Regions from separate parts of the Homo sapiens genome. Here region 2 is linked to region 1. The links come from fine-mapping of genetic effects on gene expression. A gene starts in region 1. The other region holds a variant in brackets. All regions are shown on one strand. Distances are from middle to middle.

Region 1 (2,719 bases):
CAATGTGGCCCAGCCTCCCACCCCACAGTGCATTCCTTGGTGGGGCCAACTTGTTCAGCCAGATATCTCTATTCTCCCAAAGAGCACAGAATGATTTTTGCCAGCCTGGGCCATCACAGAAGAAATTAAGCTGAAACTGAAAACAAATATAGAGTTGGAAAGTCCCTCAAAACTCAGGGGCACTGAGGTTGCCAGTGAGACAACCAAGAAGTGGAGATCCTCCCCAGGCCCCTCCTCTTCCCTGCTCTCCTCGGCCCTGCTCTCCTCCGCCCTGGGGGAAAGCGTCCTTGGTGCCTGGAGGGATGGGGGAGAGAAGGCGTTCACCTTGGCTCTGCTGGCGTTTTCCTTGGGGCCCTCCAGCTGCAGCCAGATGTGGGGGTTGTCCGGACAGTCCTTCGGAAGGACGCTCACCCCCACGCTGAAGATGCGCTCCACATGGGGCTGCTGTTCCCGAACCTTGTTCTCAGCCTCCGCAGACACCGCAAAGCGATCTGGGGACGCGGGGCGGGCCCCCCAGGTAGGCATGGCTGCTGCCCCCAGCCCTGGAAGGGGAGAAGGCAGCTCAGAGCCTCATTGTACCCTCCATCCAAATCCTGGTTCCTGGGACTACACCAGCTATCAACAGGTCGCACCTAGTTAAGGCTCTGGTAAACAGCCCCAGGAGGTGACAAGCATCTGAGTCCACTGGAGGTAGGGAGGGTGTATGTCACGCAGGCCTCTCCGGAGAGGAAGTCCCGGTAAACAAGGCTGTCTATCGAGAGTGGGCGTCTGGGCTTTGGAAAAGGATGACCACAGTCCGGAGCAAGAAGGGTGGGGGGGCTCCAGCTCGGCCTGGAGGCCAGAAGGAGTCTCCTGGGGCACTCTGAAGCTTCTTAAGGACGAATCCTCAGCAGGGGATTGAACTAGGCTGTCCTCTGGGGGCCCTGGTCTGCCATTTCCAAGGTTCAAGCCACTCCCACCCCTCCCCCAGCCGTCCGCTGCCCCTCTCCGTCGGGCCAGGAGCACCGCCCAGGGCCCAGGGGCCGGGCCGGGCCGGGCCCGCCCACCGCGGACTGGGGCAGCCACCCCGGGCCGGGCCTACTCCGCACCGCGGCCCCCGCTCCCCGCTCCCGGGCGCGGTGGAGGGGCGCGCCTACCGCCTCCGCCGCCCGCGCCGGCTTCAGGTCCTCTCAGCGCCCGCCAGGCCCCCGCTTTGCCCGCGCCCCCAGCCCAGGGGACAAGGGCAGGGGGCCCGAATCTGGGCGGGCCTTCCCGGGTTCCTCACCCAGCGGGGACCTCTCTTGTCCACATCGCACGCAAACTGTTTCTTGAGTCACTTCCTGGCCTGGGGCGGAGTCAGCCCAGCTCCTCCCGGCTGCGCGCCCTCCTCCCAACCCCGCCGCCGCGCCCAGAGGCCCCGACGGGCCCGCTCGGCCTAGTCCCCTCGGCGGCTCCAGGGCTCGCCCCTTGCGCTTCTCACCAGCCCTCCCGTCTGTCTCCCGGCCCTCAGGGTCCTCGCGCATTCTGCGCAGTTACTTCTCGGAAAGGGGAACCATGCGTTGAAAGTTGTTTCCCGCGAATAAAGATGTGGCCGACCAAAGAGGCAGCGTGACTGGCCCACTGGTGCTCTAGGCCCAAGCACTTTCCACCAAAGCAATCGTGGCGGAGGGGGTAGGCGGGAGGCGGGAGGCGGAGGGTACCCGTGGTGGAGTACCCCTTTCTTCCAACAAACGGAAAGATGCCACGAAGAAGGGCTGTTGATTTGTGGGGGATTTTGAAGAGAGGAAGAGTAGGAGGAAGGGGTTGAGGGGCTGCCTCTGGCATATGCACACACTCACACATTCTGTCACACCCGTCACACACACATACCATGTTCTCCATCCCCCCAGGTCCAGCCCTCAGTGCTGTCCCATCCAGCAGGGCTGCCCTGAAGCTCTGGCTGCAGCCCTCCCGTCCAGTGGGCAGGCGGCTTCATCCCTCCTTTCTCTCCCAAAGCCCAACTGCTGTCACTGCATGCTCTGCCAAGGAGGAGGGAACTGCAGTGACAGCAGGAGTAAGAGTGGGAGGCAGGACAGAGCTGGGACACAGGTATGGAGAGGGGGTTCAGCGAGCCTAGAGAGGGCAGACGATCAGGGTGCCGGCGGTGAGAATCCAGGGAGAGGAGCGGAAACAGAAGAGGGGCAGAAGACCGGGGCACTTGTGGGTTGCAGAGCCCCTCAGCCATGTTGGGAGCCAAGCCACACTGGCTACCAGGTCCCCTACACAGTCCCGGGCTGCCCTTGGTTCTGGTGCTTCTGGCCCTGGGGGCCGGGTGGGCCCAGGAGGGGTCAGAGCCCGTCCTGCTGGAGGGGGAGTGCCTGGTGGTCTGTGAGCCTGGCCGAGCTGCTGCAGGGGGGCCCGGGGGAGCAGCCCTGGGAGAGGCACCCCCTGGGCGAGTGGCATTTGCTGCGGTCCGAAGCCACCACCATGAGCCAGCAGGGGAAACCGGCAATGGCACCAGTGGGGCCATCTACTTCGACCAGGTAATCCCCCTACCCCTGTCCAGGGGACCTGGAAAGACCCTGCAAGGACCTGGAAGCAACTGTCCAAGCCCACTTTGCTGTCTCTGAGGCTTTAAGAAAACAGCTTCCTACATCTTTCACTAATCTGGCCTATTGCCCCACCACCCCACCGACGGTTTCCCCTCCCTCCACCCATACGCAGCCCTCTCCTTGCCCCTTCTCACCATTTCTTTTGAATC
Region 2 (3,014 bases), 530 kb after region 1:
ATATTCAATATACAATCTTCTTACCTTTATGATGAGTCCCAGTTGCTTTGTCTAGGGCACAGAGGGAATCCCAGCAACAGGAGTAGCTCAAGATTGGGCAGGTCCTGGGGTGTCTGGGCAGCTACTGTTCTCTCTCCTCTCTAAGTCAGGGCATCCTTTCCTTTCTCCTCCCCCTAGGACACACCAGGAGGTCTCCCTGCCCTCTTTCCAGACTTCACTTTGTTGAGTCCTCAAAGCCCCAAACCAGGATGGAGGCTTATACTGAAAGACACCAAATCACATTCTGTCCATCATGCAGGGCCTCTTTCACAGATTTGCTTACCGCCACAGTGCACAGGGACCCGTCTGAATCTCTATGGACTGTGCACATCAGCTCCCAGGAACTCTGGTCCTTTCCTTGCATTTTCTATGTTAACATATGGGCCCACTATCCATTCAGTTGTCTAAGCCAGAAACCGCAGTCAGCCAAGATCCTTCTCACTTCTTCCATATGCAATTGTCACCAAGGCCTGCTAATATGATATCTGCTAGCTTTTAGTTGATCTTCTCCTGATTCCTCAGTCACTGCATTTTGTTGGAGTGGTCATCTGTCTTTCCTGGAGTGTAGCTGTAGCTCCTGTTCTGCTCTTACTTCCAAACTAAGCTGGAGGAGTCTTTCCAAGGTGAAAAGCTGATCAAGTTCATCTCATTGTGGAGATTCAATGGCTTTGATGATAAAATGTACATTTCTTGGCTTCCTACACTGGGATTTTGTTGATTTGTCCCTGACTCCTCTCCCTTGCCTTCACAAGCTCCTTCTACTATAAACATAACAATGTTCTTGCATTTCATGCTTGCATCTTCTCATTCCCTGGATTGTTCCTACTCTTCCCTCAGACTCAGCAAAGGCATCCCTACTTCAGGGAAGCCTTATAAATACATCTACTTGGTTTTACATGGCTGTCTCTCCAACCCAACTTTCAGTGTTTCCCCTGCCCCTCCTCCCACTGCCACCAGGCTGACAATATCTTAAGGGCAGAGTTCGTATTTTATACTTCTCCAGAGTCATTGCACGTGATAGACGTCATTCAATATTTGGAGTTTCTTAGTCTCTTAAAAAAACACACCTTTTTTTGGAGAAAGGGAAACATGTACACTGCTGCTTGGAATATAAATTAATTTGGCCAATGTGGAAAGTGGTTTGGTGATTTCTGAAAGAACTTAAAAAACAGAATCACGATTCAACTCAGCAACCTTATTACTAGGTATATACCCAAAGGAATATAAATCATTCTACTATAAAGACACATGCACACGTATGTTTATCACAGGACAATTTATGATAGCAAGGACATGGAATCAACCTAAATGCCTATCAATGGTAGGCTGGAGAGAGCAGCCTGGCCAACATGGTGAAACCCTGTCTCTACAAAAAATACAAAAAAAATTACTGGGCATAGTGGTGGCCGCCTGCAATCCCAGCTACTTGGGAGGCTGAGGCAGGAGAATCGTTTGAACCCTGGAGGCGGAGGTTGCAGTGAGCCAAGATCACGCCATTGCACTTCAGCCTGGGC[A/G]ACAGGGTGAGATTCTGTCTCAAAAAAAAAAAAAAAAAGGTAGCCTGGATAAAGAAAATGTGGTATGTATACATCATGGAATACTATGCCGCAGTAAAAAGAACAAAATCGTGTCCTTTGCAGCAACATGCATGGAGCTAGAGACAATTATCCTAAGAAAACTAATGCAGGAGTAGAAAACCAAATACTTAATGTTTTCCCTTATAAGTGGGAGCTAAACATTGAGTACATATGGATACAAAGAAGGGAACAACAGACATCAGAGTCTACTTGAGGGCGGAGGATGGGAAGAGGGTGAGGCTGGAAAAACTACTCCTGTGACATGCAATGTACCTACATAACAAACCTGCACATGTACTCCTGAACCTAGAAAAAAAGTCACATCTCTGTCTTAATGTCTGTCCTCTGTAGATGCCTTGAGCCTCTTATGGGATCATGAGGATTGTGTGCTGGGATCCCGGCAGACAAAGCTGAGATTCAGCTGGATAAAGCAGGCTGTAGCACAGCTGATGTTTGTTCTCTGTGGAAATCAGGCTCTTTTCTCCTAAGGTGAGTTCTAGAGCAGTTATTTCTACTATTAGTCCATTTTTTTGGCGTATATTCTATGTGCCTAACTGAGGTTCATTTGGTGTTTTCATCTTCATGCAAGCCCACTGAAGTGGGTGGTACTATCCCTGCTTGACACATAGGAAACTGAGTCATATACAAGTTAAATAACTTGCCCAACAAATATAATCATTATTCATTAACACATAGATTTGTCTTTAAACCCCATGCTCTTAACTTTTTTTTTTTTTTTTTGAGACAGGATCTCACTCTGTTGCCCAGGCTGGAGTGCAGTGATGCCATCTTGGCTCATTGCAGCCTCCGCCTCCCGGGTTCAAGCGATTCTCCCACCTCAGCCTCCTGAGTAGCTGGGACTACAGGCATGCACCACCATGCCAGGCTAATTTTTATAGTTTTTTTTTTTTTTAGAGACAGGGTTTCACCATGATGGCCAGGCTCCCATGCTCTTAACTTCTAAGCCATAATGTTTTATGAATTCAGTTATGAATTGGATACGTGTTGTGAACTAAAATTCAAGCAATTTTGTATTCTAACCCAACATGAACATTGAAGTTAGTGGGGTGCCTAAATGCTGGCTGAGGGTGGGAAACCAAGTTAACTACAGAGCCTCTTGCCTGGTCCTGCCTTCAAGTGCACCTTCCCAGTCTCAGCCTGGGCTGCTCTGAACAGGTTTTCTTGGACTTGTCAGCAAGATACAGGCTTCCATTGACAGTTTTGGAGTCAGGCTTAAATATGTGGAAAATGCCTCTATGTCAGGCAATTTCTTTCCAAAGTATGCTTAACTTCTTCTGGCTTTCATAGTTGTGAATCTATAAATTCTTTTGAGTAGAAAAGTGGTTTGCATCCTTGACAAAGTAGTTGGCATTAGAACCTAGTCTCGTCAGTGTTTGTTTG

Alleles and levels. Positions count from the first base shown, and alleles are read on the strand shown. Sizes are in standard deviations (SD) of each study's normalised expression.
As copies of A replace G in region 2, the expression in naive CD4 T cells of the gene that starts at base 1,302 in region 1 goes up (large effect, 0.76 SD a copy in Schmiedel 2018).

Evidence for each region. PIP is the estimated chance that this variant, and not a neighbour inherited with it, causes the effect.
Region 2: its variant is fine-mapped to the expression of KHNYN in naive CD4 T cells (Schmiedel 2018, PIP 0.92).

What each region holds. Positions count from the first base shown.
Region 1 is chr14:24,428,537-24,431,255 of GRCh38, reverse strand. KHNYN (KH and NYN domain containing) reads right to left here and starts at 1,302. Exons shown (of 8, transcript NM_015299.3): 1 at 1,137-1,302; 2 at 325-542. The coding sequence starts at 525. CBLN3 (cerebellin 3 precursor) reads left to right here and starts at 1,588. Exons shown (of 3, transcript NM_001039771.3): 1 at 1,588-2,501. The coding sequence starts at 2,202. RefSeq lists enhancers at 1-7, 46-155, 8-571, 716-895 and a silencer at 926-1,465.
Region 2 is chr14:23,901,663-23,904,676 of GRCh38, reverse strand. It overlaps LINC00596 (long intergenic non-protein coding RNA 596), which reads left to right and starts at 1,738. Exons shown (of 4, transcript XR_429343.4): 1 at 1,738-2,102. The variant A/G (reference allele first, on the strand shown) is at 1,554.